3 linked regions of the Homo sapiens genome follow. The protein of the gene in region 2 purifies or fractionates together with the protein of the main gene of each other region. This does not show direct contact. Each region holds a gene or a part of one and is shown on either strand. Other genes may lie near its edges.

Region 1 (7,000 bases), on a different chromosome or scaffold from region 2:
CCCGGGAGGCGGAGGTTGCGTTGAGCTGAGATTGTGCCGTTGCACCCCAGCCTGGGCGACAGAGGCAGACTCCGTCTCAAAAAAAAAAATAAAATAAAAAAATAAAGCAGAGTGAATTCAGGTGGCCTAGGCAAGGATGCTTGAAAAATAACAACCATGTTAGTATAAACACCATTTTTCAATGTTTTGCAAATCATTTTTATGCCTCTTGATTCTTACCGGTACCGTTTGAGATGTAGATGATATTATACCATTTTGTAGATGTGGAGACCAAGGAAGACTTAACTGACCAAGGTGAGATCATATATTATGTGGCAAATTTGTGATTGGAAACTACTACTCCTCCTACTCCCACTCATCATGCAGTGTTACTGTTTTATGGTTACTTTTGCAAACATTAAAGTTTATCTCATTGCTAGTTAGATTGGCTAAAGAAATTAGAAATAGGAGGCTGATTTTTTAATTTATTCAATCAGCAACCCTTATTGAACTTTCATGTGCCAGGTCCTAGGGGAGGGGTTGAAAGTGGTAGATCTGAATGAGGTTACCATTTAAAGTAAATGTTTAATGAAAGTTGCTGAAGCCTTTGCTTTTTTTCTCTTAAACCCCAGTTTTATATTTCAGTAGGGGAAAAAAATAGACATCAGAAACTGAATGAATATAGTGACGAATAAACATAAAGAAATCAGGCTGATCTGTGGCTATAAGTACTCCGTCTTTCATTGAGCATTTGTTGTTTCACTCAATTGAGATTAAAAGAAAAGCTTCAGATGGAGGCAGGAACACCAATCGGCTTTGAGTTTGCAGAAATGTGATTTAAAAATGAGATTTTGGTTTGCACATTTCTGTTACAAAATTTTATCAGTCACTTTTCAACTTTTCTGAACCGTGACCCATGTAAGAAATATATTTTACATCAGGATCAAAAACAAGTTTCAGGAGACCGTACTAATCCTTACTACGGGTTGAGTATCCCTCATCCAAAATGCTTGGGACCACAAGTGTTTCGAATTTTGGAATATTTGCATTATATGCTTGTTGAACATCCGAAATCAGAAGTGCTCCCAATGAGCATTTCCTTTGAGTGTCATGTTGGCGCTGAAAAGTTTCATATTTTGGAGCATTTTGGATCAGGGATGCTCAGCCTGTGCTTGTGATGTGCTGTTGTGGTATATTTAAAAAAGGAGCTGGTTGCAACACTAGATTGATTTCACAGCCCACTGATTCCTGACCCACAGTTTGAAAAATACTGAATTATATACGTCACATGTATTGCATATTGCAGGGCCTGGTTAATTTACCATGTTTTGAAGTTGTAAGTTTAACATAGTTTCATATTTGAAAATACAGATAATTTAGAGGAATAGCTTAAAAACCTGAAGTTTGTCTTGTTAACATCATCCTGTCCCCCTCGTTCCCCTTCTGTTTTTCTTGCTGCTTGGATAAATAGACCTTTGCTGAGAATGCCCCTTGCATCAGGATAGTGAGACTGGTGTCTAATGGCCAGTCTGGGAACATGGGGAGCTTTTCTCAAGTGCTCTGCTCCACCCTAGGGAAGCCTGTGCACTCTGGGAGTCTGGGAAATGAAGGCAAACACAGGACAGCTGCATTTAATTGTGGCTTAAGTGCTCTTGTACTTTTTTTTCTTGTTAGTGTCACATTTCCACGGGTTCTTTTCCGTTCCTTCCTTGGGAGGTGCCTGCCCAGTTACCCTGTTACCATCTGCACCCTGGGGGAAGGTTGGTGTGTCACTGGGTGTGGACAGTCAGGACATCCGAGACGTGGGTTCGGAGAGCACCTTGGGGACTTGCTGAACTGTGGAGTGTGCTCTGGTGACTGACAGCATTGGACTGCACAGGGGAGCCTGCAGAGTATAGTGCCCGGAGTCGTTGGAGGCAGAGTTCAGAGCCTCAGTCCATCCTGTCCTCAAGAGGTCGGCTGCCTGCTTTGGGGCATGTGCTCTAAGAAGGTTGCAGTGACTGAGGACACAGTGAGCAAAGGCACATGGTTGGAAAGCGGTGACACAGCTTCTGGTGGGCTAGATCTAGATCGGTCCTGGAGCTGAAGAGGCAGTGGGGTGCCTGTGGGCCTGGGGGAGGCCTTGCATCTGTAGACAGCCGGAAGTATGGCACATTTTTGAGCAGATGATCTCCTGTTCTTTGGGGCTCCTGCTTTCTCAGGTGTGGGGAGTGCTGGGTGCCCCTTTAGAAGGCATTGCAGCACTTCAGGGAAGAGGAAGCCCAGGGATGCGAGTGGGGAGCCCAGGTGTCAGTAGGACAGCCTAAGTGGATTTTTTTAGCATTCACTCAGCTTCGTGGCTTGAACTCTCAGTGAACATTTTATAGTATCTCATTACTCCTCTTGCTTTATGATCCTTTTTGCTGATCAGTGCTAAAGAGTAATAAGTACTCAGTTACTGTTAGTTACTGTTTTGTTAGTTAGTTGCCTATGTAAGTGTCAAAAAAACAAAAAACCTATTTTGAATACTCCGTGTTCCAAAATGTAACAATGGTAAGAATTTGTTTTGCTTGAAAGTGTTCTTTTTTGAGGGGGAGGATGGTCACAAGGTTTTTTTAAATTAGAAAAACCCAAACTTTTGGAGGAGTCCAGTCTCAGATCTGGGAGTATTCTTGATAGCATGTCACATAAAAGCAAGTGACCTTCAAGTAGGAATTGGTCAGATGAGATTTTCTAGCTTGCTAACTGTGCTGAGCAGTTATGGGCAGGTGGCGGCTGGCATCATTGCTTTCCCACCCTCTTTCTGACTTTGATGCTCTTCTTGGAGCTACGGTCTGATGCGTAGAGCTGAGCTGCCTAATGTGGTGCAGGTTGAGTTTCATTTTCAGTTCAGTATTTTTCCAGGACCCTGGTGCAAGATGCAGGGTGAGCAGTTACTGAAGGGAGGAGCCTGTCGATGGTCACTGCTACTTTCTGCTGTGCTTGTGCGGTTACACACACTCTAAAGCCGCAGTCCAGGCGTCCGATGGTCTCCTGAGAAACGGGCCCCTTAGCTCTTTATTTGGGCGATTACTCCCGATGATTCAGAGCTGCCCTTGTGGAAGCTCCTTACCTGCAGGAAGTGGACCACACCCAAGCCACCTTTCTGTGCCTTTTAATGCCTTAGCTCAGCTGATTATCATTAATGGAATCTTGTGGGTGGTGTGAGTGCAGGAAATAGAAGTTGCACTCTATTATCCATGTCTCATCGCGTAGAATCAGCCACTGTCGTCGGAGTAGTTTGTAGCAGTCATTTCCCATAATTCATGTTTTTGCAGTGGAAATTATAAAAAATATAAGTGCCAAATGCTTTGGGAAAAATAACCTGCCTCCTGAGGGTGACTATGGAGTTTCTTAATCCTAAATGGCTCCCTGGTTTGCAAGGTTTAAATTAGGGGAAATAAACTGAGATATGCCTTTGCTTGGTACAAACTGTGAAACATCCCAAATTGGTGGTTACCAGTCACTTTATGCGCACCCAGGGAACAACATTGTTGACTCTAGAGACCTTCCATTGTGTTTCTTGAGGGTTCTTCGTCAGCAAAAGAAACCTTTTCTGTTCTGCGCTCTGTTGGTATCTGAATACATTGTGGGAACATTTCAAGTTTTAAATTAATGCTTACCAAGTACGTAGCTGGGGTTTATCTTCCTATTATTTTAAGTCTCTTCCTGTTTTTTAAGAGAATTTTAGGCCGTAAGGTTTGAAAGAACTGTTACAGGTCCACATCCTTTGTTTTATTTGTAATTACTTAGGATTTTGTTTAGTTTCTATTTAGAAATGTCTAATGGGTAGTTTTGTAAGGTTGGTTGGGAAAGATAGCAGCTGCTTCCACCTCCCGCCATTTCTTATTCCCCGAGGGCAGCCCCTTTGATCTCTCCTGGTTGATTTTTGTTTTTGTTACTCCTTAGTTTATGAGGAACATTAAAAAATTGACCGGGGGCGGTGGCTCACGCCTGTAATCCCAGCACGTTGGGAGGCTGAGGCAGGTGGATCACTTGAAGTCAGGAGTTCAAGACCAGCCTGGCCAACATGGTGAAACTCTGTCTCTACTAAAAATACAAAAAAAACAGCTGGGCGTGGTGGTGGGCGCATGTATTCCCAGCTACTTGGGAGGCTGAGGCAGGAGAATTCTTTGAACCTGGGAGGCGGAGGTTGCAGTGAGCTGAGATGGTGCCACTGCACTCCAGCCTAGGTGACAGAGTGAAACTCCATCTCAAAAAAAAAAAAAAAAATTTCTGCCTGTGTTTTTTTTTTTTTCCTGGTTTCAGGCATTGTCTATAGACTTTGGACCCTGCGGATGAGGATTTACTTCTCTTCCGCTTGCCTCTTTTCCTCACATGGGCTCCCCGCTCTCCCCCAGCAGAGAGATGTTGTAATGTCAGTGAGGTCAGAATGCGGTGTGTACATTAATGGACTGCAGACGGATCTGCAGCCCAGCCATTATTACTCAACCATAGTTACTGATCAGATTTCTTTTCTTTTGGTAATGCTTCTCATTCATCCCAGCACTCTGTAGTTGTTGCAACCTTGTCTTAGGAAGTTCGGGTGGCACCTGTGCCTTTCGTCACCTGCGTATCTTCTATGCTTCTTGTGCCACCCCCATCCTCTGGTCTTCCTTTGCTCTCATCCTCTGGGTTCCTTCTGCTGCTCTCTTGTGTTGAATATCTGTTTTGTTTTTTTTTGTTTTTTTTTTTTTGTCTCTGCTGTCATTTTCTTTCTTGGTTTATGCCATGATGTTGGTTGGGCATATAGTGCGCCATTTTCTGTGAATAGGCAGCGTGGGAGACAGGCTTTTCAAAAATTTTTTTTCTTCTCCCTCAGTTGATATTTTAGCATGGTGTAAAATTGCAGGGTGGACATTCATTTCCTCCAGAATTTTAAAGGTGTTTCTCCACTGTGTTTTAGCTTCCAGTGTTGCTGTTGAAGATGGAGGCCCTGCCAGCACCGGCTTCTGTGTGTGCAGGCTGTGCTGTTCTTCCTGGACCTAATGGGATCTGAACTTTTTCCTTGAGTTCTGAAGTTTCACAATGATGTGGCTTGGAGTGGGGCTGTTTTCGTTTCTCGTGACAGATACTTGGTTAGGCCTTTTCTGTGAAGCGACTCAGATCTTTTCATTGACTTTTTTCTTTGATTCCCCTCCCCCCTTCCATTTTCTGTGTTCTTTCTTTCTGAAACTTTATTACTTGGATGGTGAACCTTCTGCATCGGCCCTCAAATATTCTTTTATCTTTTTTGTTTTTCGAGATGGAGTCTCGCTCTGTCACCCAGGCTGGAGTGCAATGGCGTGATCTTCATTCACTGCAACATCTGCCCCCCCAGGTTCCAGTGATTCTCCTGCCTCAGCCTCCCGAGTAGCTGGGATTACAGGCGCCCACCACCATGCCTGGCTAATTTTTGTATTTTTTAGTAGAGATGAGGTTTCACCATGTGGAGCAGGCAGGTCTCGAACTCCTGACCTCAGGTGATCCACATGCCTCGGCCTCCCAAAGTGGTGGGATTACAGGTGTGAGCCACCATCCCCGGCCTTCATTCCCCATTTTTAAGTATGCTGCCTCTGCTTCCGGCTGTGTCTGCTGCAGCCTGGTCCATATATCCTCAATTTTTCCTTCCTTTGCAGATAATATATTTTCATCATTTCCTTGACTTTGGGAGCCTGGCTGTGAGATGTGGGGCAAGCTGTCTGGCTGTCTACCCACTTCTGTGGCTGACTTTGAGGCTCTGCCTGGTTCACTCATTCCCCCGGCAGAGGGACTGGTGCCGTCAGTTCCTGAGAGCCGGGGGTCCAGCACTGTGAGTTAAGTTAGTTCTCTGCTGGCCCGGCGCGATGGCTCATGCCTGTAATCTCAGCACTTTGGGAGGCCGAAGCGGGTGGATCATTTGAGGTCAGGATTTCGAGACCAGCCTGACCAACATGGTGAAACCCCTTCTCTACCAAAAACACAAAAATTAGCCAGGCGTGATGATACACGCCTGTAATCCCAGCTACTTGGCAGGCTGAGGCAGAATTGCTTGAACCCAGGAGACGGAAGTTGCAGGGAGCCGAGATCGCGCCATTGCACTCCAGCCTGGGCGACAGAGCGAGACTGTGCCTCCAAAAAAAAAAAAAGTTCTCTGTTTTCTGCACCTCCGGTTTAGCGTTGTCTTCCTCTACTCCCCACCCCCCCCCTTTTTTTTTTTAAACCACTACCTACTTTCCAGCTTCTGAGATTTCATTGCAGTTGTCTTCTCTCTGTTTCAGGTATGTGGTGGTTTTTAGATTTATGATTTTAGTGGGATTTCAGGATTGACCCAATTAGATGCTGCTGTCTGTGTGACCCCTCTACCTCCAAGTTGCTATTCTTCAGTTTATAGGTGAATAAAGACAGGGCCAGGCAGGTGAGGAAATTCCAAGAGCTAGGACTGACTGCTGGGCCAGGGCGGCGGGCAAGAACTCGGAGCCTCCGTTCTCTTCATCATGAGATTGTGCCTCTTATTTTCTCCCTGTAAATAAACAGCAGTATACATGTCTGCTTATTTTTCCATCTCTCTACTGGTCGGTGGCCTCCACCTCCCCAACTTGAACTGAGAACCTGCTCTTCTTGCTTCTCTCATTTTTTTGGTCCCAAGATCCTGTGGACACAGAACGATGTCCGGGAGCCTCATAGGATCTCTCTGGAGAAACGCTTGCTTAAGTTTATGATGCTTTGGGGTTCCAACCCCCTGGTCCAGAATTGAGTATGTGCTTCTTGGCAGGGCGGAGGTGGCATCAGTCTGGTCGTATGTTCCGTGGTGGTCGGTGCAGGACTGGGGCACACGTGTGCCACAGATGCCGAATAGCCCGTCAGAGGGCCTGGGTGTTATGTGGCTGTCCCAGTGGCCATGTGTTAGCAGATTGCATGTTGCAGAGTCAGTGGTGTCTGCGCGCTGGGGGCACTGCACAGCGCTGGCCATAAATCCATAGCATGTTAATGGATGGAGGACTTGAAGGGTGCGTATCTAAACAGCGAAAGCTCTTCTTTGGGG
Region 2 (7,000 bases):
AGTTCCACACTCTAGGGCAGTTGCTGATCTTATCTGAAGCCCTCATTGGGTGGTAAGCTCTAGACAGCAGGAGCATGATTTATACTGTGGTACTGGATTGTGTGCTTAGCAGGTGCGTGTGTGTGGCTGTGATTCAGGGGATGCTGTGGGGGTGGGCTGAGGTTTGAAATCCGGCCGTGAAAGTAGGTGAGATGCAGCCGTGCACGGATGGGCGTCGCTGCCTTAGAAGCCGACATAGGAAGAGCCAGTGATGGACTTGAGCAGGGAGCAAGAAGCGACAAACCATAGCCTGTGGCCCGTAGCTGCCCCCACTCCGTGCTTTTGTAAATACAGTTCAGTGTAACAAAAGTGAGGCTCATTCCTTACCTTGGTAGAGTTGAGAAGCTGCTACCCTAAAGCCTGCACAGCCCAGAATATTCACTACCTGGCCCTTTACCAAAGAGTTGGCCATGCCTCCCGAGGAATATAAAGGAGAGAATGGTGGAAAGTTAACTGTGAAGGGTAGGCGGAGCCATAGCAAATACCTAGGAAGACATAGGGCAGAAAACGTGCAAGATGTCTACACTGGAAACTATGAGAAACATTGAGAGAAATTAAAGAGCCAGATCTGTGCATCTAAACTGTCAGCGCATCAGACTCCCTGGAGGCTGCGTCCAACACAGACTGACAGGCCCAGCGCCTGAGAGTTTCTAATGCGGCAGGTCTGGGATCGGACCCAGGAATGTTTCTGACAAGTTCACAGATGCTGCTTCTGGTCCAGACACCACACTTTGAGAACCACACATCTAAATAAATGAAGCCATGAGCCATATTCATGGGTCAAGAAAAGATCGCAGAGACATCAGTTCTCTGCAATTTGAGAAACTTTCATGCAAATCCCGCTTAAAGTCACCACAGGGGCATGCGTGTGTTTATGTGAATATGCAAATTGACAAACTGATACTAAAATTTATGTGGAAATAAAAAAGGACTAAGAAAGCTAAACAGACTTAAGGAAGACTTTAAGAACTCCAACAAAACTGGAGGACTCTGCCAGATATCAAGACTTACTATAGAATGGGCACAGTGGCTCATGCCTACAATAACACCACTTTGGGAAGCTGAGGCCAGAGGACTGCCTGAGCCCAGGAGTTCAAGATCAGCCTGGGCCATGTAGCAAGACTTTGTCTCTACAAAAAATATATAAAAATTAGCTGGGTATGGTAGTGTTTGCCTGTAGTTCCAGCCACTGGGGAGGCTGAGGTGGGAGGATCACTTGAGCTGGGGAGACCTAGGCTGCAATGAGCTGTGATTGTACCACTGCACTGTAGACTGGGCAACAGAGTGAGACACGGTCTCCAAAAAATCAACAAAAGGCATATACAAAACATCAATATTTCATTATGTATATGCAAATATTTCAAAATGTGAAAAAATCCAGAACACTTCTTATCCCAAACATTTCCGATGAGGAGTACTCACCTGTATTATGGAGAAAAAAAAGCTCAACATCATTAGTCTTCGTGGAAATGACACTGAAAATCACAGTGAAATATGACTGCATTCCTCTCCTTCAGGGCGCTAGAGCAACCAGCCCTGCCGAAAGCAAGTGTCAGTCAGTACAACCACTTCGGAAAGCTGTGTCCACCCACCCAAGCAGACACACATCTTCAGACCCGGCGATTGTGCATAGGTTTATATCCAACAGGTACGCATTGCTTATCTTCCCTAGCAATGTTCTGCCTGCCTACCTAACCCGTGCCTAGGTATCTCTCCTTTTCCTGAGACATCCTTCTTTCAGGATTAAGCTAATAAGACCAGGCTAGCTTGAGAAATTTGCATGTGTTCTTGTGTTTTCATCCCCAAAACAACAGTGTACTATGCTTTCAACTATAGTCTCTGAAATTGTGTAGACCACAGGCTCTGTATGGGCCTGGGAGTTAGATGCTTTGGGTAGGTGGGCATTTGAATACCTCTCAGATCACAGTGTGGAAAGCATCAGACTACACCACATGGATCAGCTCTCAATCACTTCTGATAAGACAAAAAAAATACATTAGCAGGGCACAGACGTGCACCTGTAGTCCCAGCATCTCTGGAGGCTGAGGCAGGAGAACCACTTGAGCCCTGGGGGCAGAGGTTACAGCGAGTCAGGATCGCGCCACTGCACTCAACAGCCTGGCAACGGGAGTGAAACCATCCCCCCCACAAAAAAAAAAAAAAGTACAGCAGAAGCAGAGTCCACACTCATAGCATTATAGAGTCAAATAGTCTATAAGGTTTATAAAAGCATCAGTCCGCATGTACCACCTCCATTTCCTACTCAATGGGAGGCAACAGCTCTTAACTCTACCTATTTGTTATTTACCTCCACTATTGACATATTGCTATATATCCTTTGTTTTTTTCATGTGTCTGTATTAAGTATGCACAATTTCAATCTGAGACAACTCTGTTATGGTGTCGGTGTGTATGTTGCTGTGCACAGATGATAGATAAATGCTTTCTCTCACATTAGTTTTTCTGTGGTTGCTCATGGTTTCGGTTTTGCTTGCATGGTTTCCTTTGCCACCCTTGGGCTTGTTGTGAACTAGACTACTTGCTGAGCGCACAGGTGGCTTCCTGGGGAGCCCTCGTTATTCTGGGATTCCCTGCAGCTTTCTCATGTGGACGCTTCTGTTACCTGGCTCCGTGTCTTCTGTCTGGGTTTACTCCGTGTTTAGAGGAACAGCTGCCCTTCCTGACTACCCTGCAGAGGCTTCCTCAGACAGGCTGACATGGGAGATCAGATTGAAGACCTTGCATGACTTAAAAACACCTTTATTCTTCCGTAGTTCTAATTAATAATCGGATTATGTATAGGATCCTAGTTCACAATTTATCCGGGTTTTGAGCCCCCATTGTCTCCCGGCTTCTGGTGTTGCTGCTGAGAAGTCTGTTGCTGTTTTCTGATTCCTGATCTTTTGTTTGTTTAAATTGTTTGGAAGTTATTTCAAACTTAATGAAGTTATAAGAATAGTACAGAGAACTCCCACCTACGCTTTAATTAGATTCACCAATTTTTAAATTTTTTCCACATTTTAACATGCGCTCTCTCTATATACACAACACACGCACACTTTATTTTTTCTGAACCATTTGAATGTAGTTGCTACATAATGCTCCCCTCAATACTGAAGTACATTTTAAAAACAAGGATACTATTCTCTTACGTAACTTAGGCAGTTATCAAATTCTGATTTCTGAATTTTTTTTTTCTTTTTTTTTTTTTTGAGACAGAGTCTTGCTCTGTCACCCAGGCTGGAGTGCAGTGGTGCAGTCTTGGCTCACTGCAACCTCTGCCTCCCAGGTTCAAGTGATTCTCCTGCCTCGGCCTCCTAAGTAGCAGGGATTACAGGTGCACACCACCATGCCCGGCTAATTTTTGTATCTTTAGTAGAGACAGGATTTTACCATGTTGGCCAGCCTGGGCTCGAACTCTGGAGCTCGAGTGATCCACCCACCTCGGCCTCCCACAGTACTGGGATTACAGGCGTGAGCCACCGCACCTGGCTTCTGATTTCTGATCTTTTGTATGTGACCTGCTTTTTCACTCTGGGAAGCTTTCCAGATCTTTTCTTGGCTTTCAGTATTCTGAAATGTCACAATGATGCATACCTTGGCATGGGTCTGTTTGATTTTTATTCATTAGGTTGTACACTAAGGACCCCTTTCAGTTTGGAAACTCACCTGTTCCTGTTTAGGGGCATTTCCCTGAATTATTTTATTTTATAATTTCTTCCTCTCATTTTCTCTGATTTCTCTCTCTGGAACTCTCATTATTCACATAGTGGCCCTCCCAGATCCATCCTTTGATTTTCTTATCCTTTTTTTTCATAGTTTTCTGATTTTACAACTTTATCTTTTAGGCTTTTATTTAGTTTTTCATTTTTTTGTGCTGTTAGTATTTTTTATTTATTTCTAAGTCTTCTTTTGTCCTGTAAAGAAAAAAAATCATGCTGTTTATGGATTCAGTATCCCCTCTTATCTGACAACTGATGATAGCCTTTTTGAAGTTTTCCATCACTCCACATAGTTCATTTCCTGTAAGTTGCTTTTCTATCCTTTGATTTTGATAGCTGTTTCACATTAACAGTTTTCCTCAGATGCTCGGTGGTTATTAGATATCTGCGCATACTCCAGAGTAGGACAGTAAGAAACTGCTGCGCAGTTCTACACTGGGATTCGTTGACTGTAATCTTTACCTGTGGATTGATCTTGCTGGGGAACCCTTGGGATCAGCCTTTTTTGGCTCTTGGATTCCTCGGGTTCCCCAGAGATGACATGCACAGTCCTCCATCTGGAGGGCGGTCACTTGGCTGCACTGACAGCCCACACTGTTAACACGGCACTCCACCGTCAGCTTTGCTCCGTGGCCCCACTTCAGGGTTCCTCTGTCACCTTTTTCGAGAGTAACTGGCGAGTTTTGTGCCGGGATGAGCTCATTGCTTCTGAAAGAGACTTTCAAACAGTTCAGCTCTCTTCACCGTCACCTTGCCCACACTTCCAGAGCCGCTCAGCACCTCCAGGGCCTGAGCTTCTGGGCAGTTCTTCGGGATGCAGCAGGTGGGTCACTGGCTTTCCTGGGCCTTCTCAGTCAGTTTCCACCTGTCCTGCTCTCCGGCTGCCCTGCTTTTGGCTGTTGGATTCTTCAGGTTCCCCAAAGATGATGCGTGCTCCACCATCTCTCTTCCTGTTATTTTGTCATTGTGATTTGTGCCTTAAAAAAAAAATCCCTTCGTTTTAGTACGGTTTCTGGTGAGAAAGGAGATAAATATGTGAGTTCAATCCACCATCTTTAAGCAGAGGTTTCCCGTGATTATGGAAAAACAAGTGTGTTGGATAGCCGTAGGCTGACTGCAGCTCTCCAGTGTGCTCCCGAGAGGGTGCTTTTTGTCATTGACTTGCTAGGAACCCCAAGGCGAGGGCCCGTTATAACAGCTTTGAGGCTCTGTTGTTTGCTCTGCCTTTCGGAACACGTTCTCTTCCATCTGGGTGATGGAGAGGCACACGCAGGCACTGTGTGGCAGGGTACTCTCGGGACACAGTGAGTTCCGCCCTGGGCTGTGGACCAATCCCAACTTTGCTTCAGCTTTTGTCTCTTTAGTGAAGCCAGTGTTTGTTTTCTCTCTTCTGTTCCCAATCCCTGTACTCTAGGATGATGAGAGCCTGAAGTACCTCACCCATGAGGAAAAGGATGTGCTCCTGTTTTTTGAAGAGACGATTGACTCCCTAGACGAGGACTTTGAGGAGCCAGTGCTGTGCGATGGAGGAGTGTGCTGCCTCTGCTCCCCGTCTCTGGAGGAGAGCACCTCCAGTCCCTCCGAGCCTGAAGATGTCATCGACTTAGTGCAGCCAGCACCTGGCGCCGGGGAAGCCGAGGGCCTTCCAGAGGGGACCCAGGCAGCAGGTGAGGGGGAAGACAGGCCATCCCTGGGATGTGGTTTCCTGGTGTCTGTGAGACCCAGAGATACTTCTTTTGTGTTCCCCTGTGTTTGCCAGTAGAAGTTGTTGAGTCTTACCAGATTTTTATAGGGGAAAATACTCCTTGGCAGTTTCATCATCCAGCAAAGGGAAATGCCAGAGGGCCTAGAATAAAGAATGGAATGGGCCAGGCGCGGTGGCTCAAGCCTGTAATCCCAGCACTTTGGGAGGCTGAGGCAGGTGGATCATGAGGTCAGGAGATTGAGACCATCCTGACTAACACAGTGAAACCCCGTCTCTACTAAAAAATACAAAAAATTAGCCAGGCATGGTGACGGGTGCCTGTAGTCCCAGCTACTCAGGAGGCTGAGGCAGGAGAATGGCGTGAACCCGGGAGGCAGAGCTTGCAGTGAGCCGAGATTGTGCCAGTGCACTCCAGCCTGGGGGACAGAGTGAGACTCCGTCTCAAAAAAAAAAAAAAAAAAAAAAAGAATGAACTGGGCACATAAGCAGAGTTTACATTTTTTTAAATACACAATGCATACATGCACAGAAAGAAAATTGGAAATGGCTTCCAGGTAATTATTCTATTTTACAGGCTGGGCGCCATGGATCACTTGAGGCCAGGAGTTCAAGACCAGCCTGGCCAACACGGTGAAATCTCATCTCTACTAAAAATACAAAAATTAGCTGGCGCACACCTGTAGTCCCAGCTGGTCCAGAGGCTGAGGCACAAGAATCACTTGAACCTAGGAGGCAGAGGTTGCAGTGAGCTGAGATCGTGCTACTGCACTCCAGCCTGGGTGGCAGAGCGAGACCCTGTCTCAAAAAAAGAAAGAGAATCTCATACCACTGCTGACGTGGCAGGAGGTGGAGCTCGGTAATGCGAGCCATGGGTAGAGGCTGTAGATACAAATGAAGCTTCACTCGCTCACCACTCACGTCCTGCTGTGCGCCCCAGTTCCTAACAGGCCAGACCAGTACCAGGGTTGTTGGGGATCCCTGAGCTGGAGGGAAATGGGCAGAGAGAAATATCTTCCAGTTTTTTTCCCCGATTGGAAAGGATACTGAAAACAAATGTGGCCAAGGGTTTAACATTGGAAGGGATGAGGAAACATTACTTTTGCCCTGGTAAGGATAAAATACTGTCATTTGTCTTGAGCCACTAGAAATAAAGTGTGTACACGTGTGTACACATGTATGTCTTTCAAGCAAGGCTATGTATTACTCAGAACTTCACATACTACGGTTATGGATTCCATGTAAATATGGAGCTTGGTTTGCAGCCATCTCTTCAAAGAGGAGAAGTAATGTACTGTTCTTTTTTACTGTACTTCTGCTTTGAAATAGAGTTCCAAAAGTAATTTGAACCAGCCGATCCTTTTAAAATGTGAGATCACGTAGTCATGCCAAGGAAAACACTCTTTGAAAAATCAGCTACACCTGTCCATCTGTTCTCTAACATATTTTCATAACAATTTTTCTTTCATTTTTCTGAGACAGGAACTCTCTCTCCCACCCAGGCTGGAGTGCAATGGCACAGTCCTGGCTCACTGCA
Region 3 (7,001 bases), on a different chromosome or scaffold from region 2:
TACAAGGTCTAAATCAAGGTGGTGGCTGGAATGAACTCTTACCTGGAGGCTCTGGAGGAGAATCCGCTTCTGGGTGCATTCAGGTGGCCCTGAAAGTCCAGCTCCTGGTGCCTGCAGACCTGGGGTCCTCATTCCATGGCTGGGGGCCACTCTCTGCTCCTATAAGTCACTCACACACCTTCTCACACAACCCCTTCCTCCTTCAAACCAGCAATGTTAATTCCAGCCTTTCTCACACATTGAATTTGACCTTCTTTTCTGCTGACAGCTGGAAAAGCTCCCTGCTTTCATTAGGCTCATGAGGTCAAGCCCACCAGATAATCTCTGATCTCAAGGTCAGATGGCTTGGGACTTTCATTCCTTCGTCAAAGTCCCTGCACAGCAGCACCTAGGCTAGTGTTTAACTGAACAGCCAGGGGTACGAATCAGTGGGCCCACCTTTAGAATTCTGTCTGCCACACCCATCATATCGTATCTTTCTAAATTTGCTTCTTTCAAAATTGAATAAAAGGATGAAAATCCACGCCCTCGCCAGAGGATCACAGCAATGCAGCTCATGGCAGCAATCACCCTGCGCTGGACACGTGTGGGTTCTGGCTTCAGCCTTGACGCAGAATCTGGGGTCAGGAGAAATACACAAGAGTTCTGCCTTCCTTTCACCCACATGACCTTGTGCAAGTCACCTAACCTGGCTGAGCCCGGTCCCCTCCTCGCCACAGATGGGCTGATCCACAAGAGGACATCTTTGAAGCACCCAGCACACAGCCTGGTACCCCGGCAGTGCTCAGCTGCTATGAGCACCGCGCCCACGGTCGACAGACTGTCAGACCATCTGCACGACCTTTTTTTCTTTTTAAAAACACCACTCAATCCTTGTTAGGGGCACCACGTGCTGTACAGTCGGCTCTTCCGGCACCCCCAGTCCCTGGCTAGCCCACCCATGCCCATTGCTGGACATGTGCTCAGACGACTGATCCAAGAGTCTTCCATACAGGCAGCTTCACCTCCACGTGAAGATAACTTGCACTGTGGTGCAGTTCCAGACCTCAAGGAGCTACCTGACCAGGTAGGTTCCCAAGAGCAGACTGCCTTTGGAGCAGTTCCTGAAGTGGCCACGAGGTGGCAGGCCTTTCCCTGGCAGATCAGAGAAATCCCGCAGTTCCAGATACAGACACAGGGCAGGGCATGGCCTGGCCTCAGCGGAGGTTCACAGTCCCCAAGGTGGCATCCCCTCTGGGACGACCTGTGCTTATCTGTCTTGAGGCACAGCAGCTACAATTCTTCATCAGGATCGGAGCTGCAAGACGCCCATCTGATTCCTTCCGAGCCCCAAAGGAAGGAAATGAACATGTTTCTTTTTTAAATCTCACAACAAATAATGTCTCAGTTCTACAGGTGAGCAGATCCAAGGTTGAAAGCAATGAAGTTACTTGGTCACAGCCAATAAGAAACATGAGATACTGTTTTGTTTTGTTTTGTTTTGTTTTTGTTTGTTTTTTGAGACGGAGTCTTGCCCTATTGCCCAGGCTGGAGTGCAGTGGTACCATCTCGGCTCACTGCAACCTCTGCCTCCCGGGTTCAAGCGATTCTCCTGCCTCAGCCTCCCGAGTAGCTGGGATTACAGGTGCCCGCCACCATGCCCAGGTAATTTTTTTCTTTTTTTGTATTTTTTTAGTACAGACGGGTTTTCACCATGTTGGCCAGGCTGGTCTCGAATTCCTGACCTCAGATGATCGACCCGCCTCGGCCTCCCAAAGTGCTGGGATTACAGGCATGAGCCACTGTGCCCGGCCGAGACACTTTTAAATTTTATTGCAGAAAGGCTGGGTGTGGTGGCTCACGCCTCTAATCCTAGCACTTTGGGAGGCTGAGGAGGCCGGACTGCTTGAACTCAGCAGTTCGAGACCAGCCTGGGTAACATGGTGAAACCCCGTCTCTACTAAAAAGACGAAAAATTAGCCAAGCATGGTGGCACACACCTCTAATACCAGCTACTAGGGAGGCTGAGGCATGAGAATCGCTTGAACCGGGAGGCAGAGTTTGCAGTGAGCTGAGATCGCGCCACTGCACTCCAGCCTGGGCAACAGAATGAGACTCTGTCTCAAAATATATATATAAAATAAAATAAATTTTATCGCAGAAAACTACAAACATATGCAAAAGAAAATCGTCATAACTCCTATGGCATTCATCACCCAGCTTCAACCGTTACTAACATTTGCCACTTGTGTTTCACCTGTCCTTGAATTTTTTTTCATGGAGAATTTACAAAGCGAATACCAGACATAGGGGCAATTTGCTGTAAATACTTCCGTTTGCATCTCTAAAGGTTAGGACATTTTACCCACCAGCCGTTACTGCTCCCTACCAAAAGTATCGATACTCCCAGTTTTCATCTAATACCCAGCTTTATATTCCAATTTCCCCCACCTATCTCTCAAATGCCCCGTTTAAGCTAGTTTATTCTATCATGATCCAAGTAAGTTCCACACATTCCATTCAATGACGTCTTTTAAGCTCATTTATTCTCTAATAGTTCAGTTCCACTTTCTTTTGTTTCCTCCAGGCTCGAATTAATTATATTATCATCATAATTATACTATTATCTTAATTATTGGTATTAATTGACACGGTCATTTGTCCTGTACAACATCCCATTTGGGGTTTAGCTGTTTGCGTCTTTCTGCAAGGGGCATATTACCTGGCAAACAGTAGGTATTAATCAGCATGGGTTGAATGGTTTCAATGGCAGAAAAGCAAAAGAATAAAGGTTTGGTCCTTTACTCAAGTGGTCCTACATTCACTAATGTAACAAGCAGGCAAAACTCCGCTTGAGAAGCCACCAGCTCGCGCCCTGGGATCCTGGGGAGGGCATGGGCTCCAGCCCTGGGATCCCGGGGAGGGCACAGGATCGAGCCCTGGGATCCCGGGGAGGGCAGGGACTCTAAGTCTGGGATCCTGGTGAGGGCACGGGCTACAGCCCTCAGATCTTGGCCGCCAGAACTGCACTCCAGGCCACGCGGTGCTGAAGCGGGAGCCAGGCCCTATCTCCTGCGGGAACCCCGCTTGGGGGCCGGCACCGGGGCCATAAGAACACGCGGCCCTCTGTTCTTGGGGGTATGCGCTACAGCAGCATGGACCTCGGTCAGGTTATGAAAACGTGTGCATTTATGAGCTTTAGTTGTGCCCCAATGTTTTCTATGCGCTGTTCTTAGTCTGTTTTTCGTGTTTTGAGAAAACTGAAGATAACAGAAAGGTACAAAACACACGCCCATATTCCCATCATCCAGCATCAAAACCGCCAACATTTCGTCCCATTTGTTTCCCGGGTTTTGTTTCCTGTTTCACCAGAAATCACTGGTGGAGACGGAGACCCCAGTGCCTTCTCTCCGCCTCGGGCGCCTGGAGAAGCAGCTTCGGGGTCGGGGCGCCCTCCCAAGCGGTTGCCTCCGCGGTTCTCAAGCAACTACGCCGCCGTTTGGGTGGCGCTCGCGCCGAGACTTCATTTTCATTTAGCAAACATGGAGTGCTCCGCGCCGCTCTGGAGCCGGGGTGTGAGGGTGAACAGGGCTCCCCACGCTCGTTCCCAGAGCAAAGGAAGGCCCGCGGTGTCAGCGCAAGGGCGGGTGCGGGCCGGGAAACGACAAGCTGCCGCCTCACTCCTACCCAAAACCAGGCTCTGAAGTCCCTCCCGGCCCGCGACGCGCGCGCCCCACCCCGGCGCTGGCCCCGCCCCCTCACGCTGCCTCCTCATTGGCTCCTCCCGGCATCGCCACGCCCACAGGAGGCTCCTCCCAATGCTCACTTCACCTTTCACCTCTTCAGGGCCTCCGGTACGCCTCAGGCCCCGCCCACCGGGGGGTGGGGAAAGATGCTCTTCCGTGACCCACAATTATTGGTGACTATTGCCTGTCCATAACAGGAAAAGCGATTACGGATTGGCTGAGGCGAAGTAGTAGGGCAGAAAAGTGGGTATAGCTGCCTGCACGCACGCTTGGTGCGTGCGCGGCGACTGCGACGGGCAGTGGCAGTCATGGCGGCTCAGTGCGTGAGGTTGGCGCGGCGCAGTCTTCCTGCTTTGGCGTTGTCTCTCAGGTAAGGGGCACTTGGTCTCCCTGGGTGGAGGTGGCAGCGCGACCTCCCGCTCCGATGGGGGCCTTTCCCGGCCCCGGGGCCTCCTTCCCGGCCTCGGCCCCGGAGCTGGGCATCTCCGGGCTCGCGGTTCCCCGCCGCGGGACGCGGACCGCCCCGCTGGGGCCTGCTCTGCTGCCAGGCTGCCAGCTCAGGGCTTGGGAAGCGTGGAGCGGGCGGGCGCCGTGTCAGGAGGAGAGGACCGCAGCGCGGGGGGCGTTTGGCTCGGAAGGTACGGTGGCCCACGTGCGCGTGTGGTCCAGGGCCTGCGGCGACGCCTCGCGCGCATTCACGGTCTCGGCGCTCACGGGCGCAGAGGCAGCCGCAACTTGTGCGGTTGAAGAAGCGACCAAAGAAGCTCGAGCTTTGTCCAAGGTCACGCAGCGAGGCCGAGCCGGGCCGGGTGTGCCCTGGGCAGGAGCTGTGGTTACTCATTTCCGTGCCGCAGCTCGAGGCCGGGGCCACAGCGGTGCTCGGGAAACTTCGTGTCGCAAGGTGCGTGTTGCCCGTTCACGGGCTTTTTCCACTCGACCTCGAATTCCTTCACTCCGCCTTCTCCAGCGTCTGAGGTCAAAAGAGCAGTCGAACCTGTGCTGCTGCTGGGCGAAGAGTTTGTTTAGACAAGGGCACATTTCGGGCCTGAGGGCCACGAGACAGTGCCCCTTTTTTTTTTTCCCCTCAAATCTGCCCCTTCTGCTTTTTGAAAGTTCTACTTTAGAAGTTAGTATGGCAAGTACTTGCTGGAGGAAGTGCCTAGAACCAAGTTATTGATTAGAGAAGCCACTGAGGGCCAAATTGGCCAAAAGCTGGGCAGTGAGATGTAGTTCTTTCCTGAAGGAGAGCAGGCAGGTGAGGTGAAGATCACTTTCAGTCTAGGTGATTAAGGGGTAAGTGCTAGCTTAATAAATTATATCTTAACAACACAGGAGCCAAGAGCAACGACCCACGTGGAATACTTGAGTAAAAAGACTTTGGTCAAGTAATTGGTGGTTTTGTATTGGAATTAATTGCCAGGAAAGTGACCACCAAGTCAGCATCATTTCTGTCTCTAGAATGGTAGTTTTGTGGAAAGATGCTCAACTAGGGAAAGGCAGGAGAACTGACTGGTAGTCATAGCTCTCAGAGTAACTAGGCTTTCTGAGACTCAGTTTCCCTCTGCAGAACGAGATGGCCCCGGGTGTGGGTCCTGTTGCACATTCCTGGCCACACTTTGTGTTGGCTGTGCTTCGGAAAGGGGTCTGTGAAGAGCTGACCTGCAGAAAGGCTGGTGGCTGTCACACCCCCAGGCAGAACAACTGGAGAGGAAGGTGGGCTTCACAACAGTACACTCAGTTTTTATTTAAATTCTTAGCTTTTTAAATTCACAAGAGTAAAAATATAAAATGGTCATCGCTCTCCACCCCCATGGCAAGACTGTAATGGAGGCTTCCACTCCACTTCTTTCCACAGATCTAAGATATTAATAAGTACACAGGATTTCTAGTTTGTCTTTACAAAAATAGGATCCTGTTTTGTGTATTTCTCTGTAAGTTGCATTTCTTAACAGAACATCCAAAGTGTATCCAATAAATGGCAGTTTAACTCATTTTTAGGAGCTGCATAATATTCCAGATTGTGTTAGCAAGTTTATTCAACCATTTGCTCGCTGACAAACATTGTTTCCAACTTGTCGCTCGCAGTGCTGCAATAAACAGCCTTGACTGAGTTCTGTGTGCTGGCAGCCTTCACCTTCCTATTCGTTGAAGCAGTTTTAATCTGGGAAGAAAATTGAATGTAGCTTATTCTCAGATAGGACTGTGGCCTAATTTAAAAAGAGGTCCTGGCCGGGTGCGGGCGGATCACGAGGTCAGGAGATCCTAGACCATCCTGGCTAACACAGTGAAACCCCGTCTCTACTAAAAAAATACAAAAAAATTAGCCGAGCGTGTTGGTGGACGCCTATAGTCCCAGCTACTCGGCAGGCTGAGGCAGGAGAATGGCGTGAACCCGGGCGGCGGAGCTTGCAGTGAGCCGAGATGGCACCACTGCACTCCAGCCTGGGTGACAGAGCAAGACTCCGTCTCAAAAAAAAAAAAAAAGAGGTCCTCTGGTCCTGGTGAAGAAATCTAGGTTTTAAGACTTTATTTTATCATTCGTTGATGGCTTTGTGACCTGGGCTTATCACTTGGTCTTGGTCTATTTCACCGGTACATATCCCATGCTTTCCTGTCTTCATGCCTTTGTCCAAGCAGTTTCATCTTCCTGAAGCTGCATCTATCCCATTGTCCCACCTCTGATCCCTTTTTCGTAACTCTTACCTATCCTACAAAGCCTTTCATGGTTTTCCATTCCCCAAGCTAGGTATCTCCTTCTACTCTGAGCCTCCCAAAGCACAAAGCACTTAGTTCCCTTTTTTTTTTTAATCACTTTTTTTTTTTTTTGAGACAGAGTTTCCCTCTTGTCGCCCAGGCTGGAGTGCAGTGGCGCGATCTCAGCTCACCTCAACCTGCGCCTCCCTGATTCAAGCGATTTTCCTGCCTCAGCCTCCCAAGTAGCTGGGATTACAGGCATGCACCACCACGCCAGGCTAATTTTGTATTTTTAGAAGAGACGGGGTTTCTCCATGTTGGTCAGGCTGGTCCCGAACTCCTGATCTCAAGTGATCCACCTGCTTTGGCCTCCCTAAGTGCTGGGATTACTGGCGTGAGCCAGCGAACCTGTCTTAATCACTTTTAAATCACAAATTACTGTTCTTTGTGTTTAGATACCTTTTTTTTGCAAGATCTCTGCTGGGTCTATCTTTGTCATCAGGATCAGCAGTAGGCCAGCCTCACTCTAGTAGTAGCTATTCCATAAGTACGTGGTTAGGTCTGGGCAGACTGTCTCAGTCA

Evidence for each region.
Region 1: the proteins of PROSER2 (region 2) and STK24 purify together in Homo sapiens (affinity purification with mass spectrometry; 3 studies listed by BioGRID and IntAct, with this or other methods). This does not show direct contact.
Region 3: the proteins of PROSER2 (region 2) and GRPEL1 purify together in Homo sapiens (affinity purification with mass spectrometry; 2 studies listed by BioGRID and IntAct, with this or other methods). This does not show direct contact.

Annotation. Positions count from the first base shown.
Region 1 is NC_000013.11:98,567,108-98,574,107, reverse strand, and holds part of STK24 (serine/threonine-protein kinase 24 isoform b precursor), read left to right. Parts: intron 1-7,000. UniProt on the Homo sapiens protein: Serine/threonine-protein kinase that acts on both serine and threonine residues and promotes apoptosis in response to stress stimuli and caspase activation.
Region 2 is NC_000010.11:11,861,356-11,868,355, forward strand, and holds part of PROSER2 (proline and serine-rich protein 2), read left to right. Parts: exon of another isoform or gene 1-52; intron 53-1,461; exon of another isoform or gene 1,462-1,687; intron 1,688-5,175; coding exon 5,176-5,428; intron 5,429-7,000.
Region 3 is NC_000004.12:7,065,065-7,072,065, reverse strand, and holds the start of GRPEL1 (grpE protein homolog 1, mitochondrial precursor), read left to right. Parts: upstream 1-4,001; 5' UTR 4,002-4,033; coding exon 4,034-4,095; intron 4,096-5,439; exon of another isoform or gene 5,440-5,886; intron 5,887-6,878; exon of another isoform or gene 6,879-7,001. UniProt on the Homo sapiens protein: Essential component of the PAM complex, a complex required for the translocation of transit peptide-containing proteins from the inner membrane into the mitochondrial matrix in an ATP-dependent manner.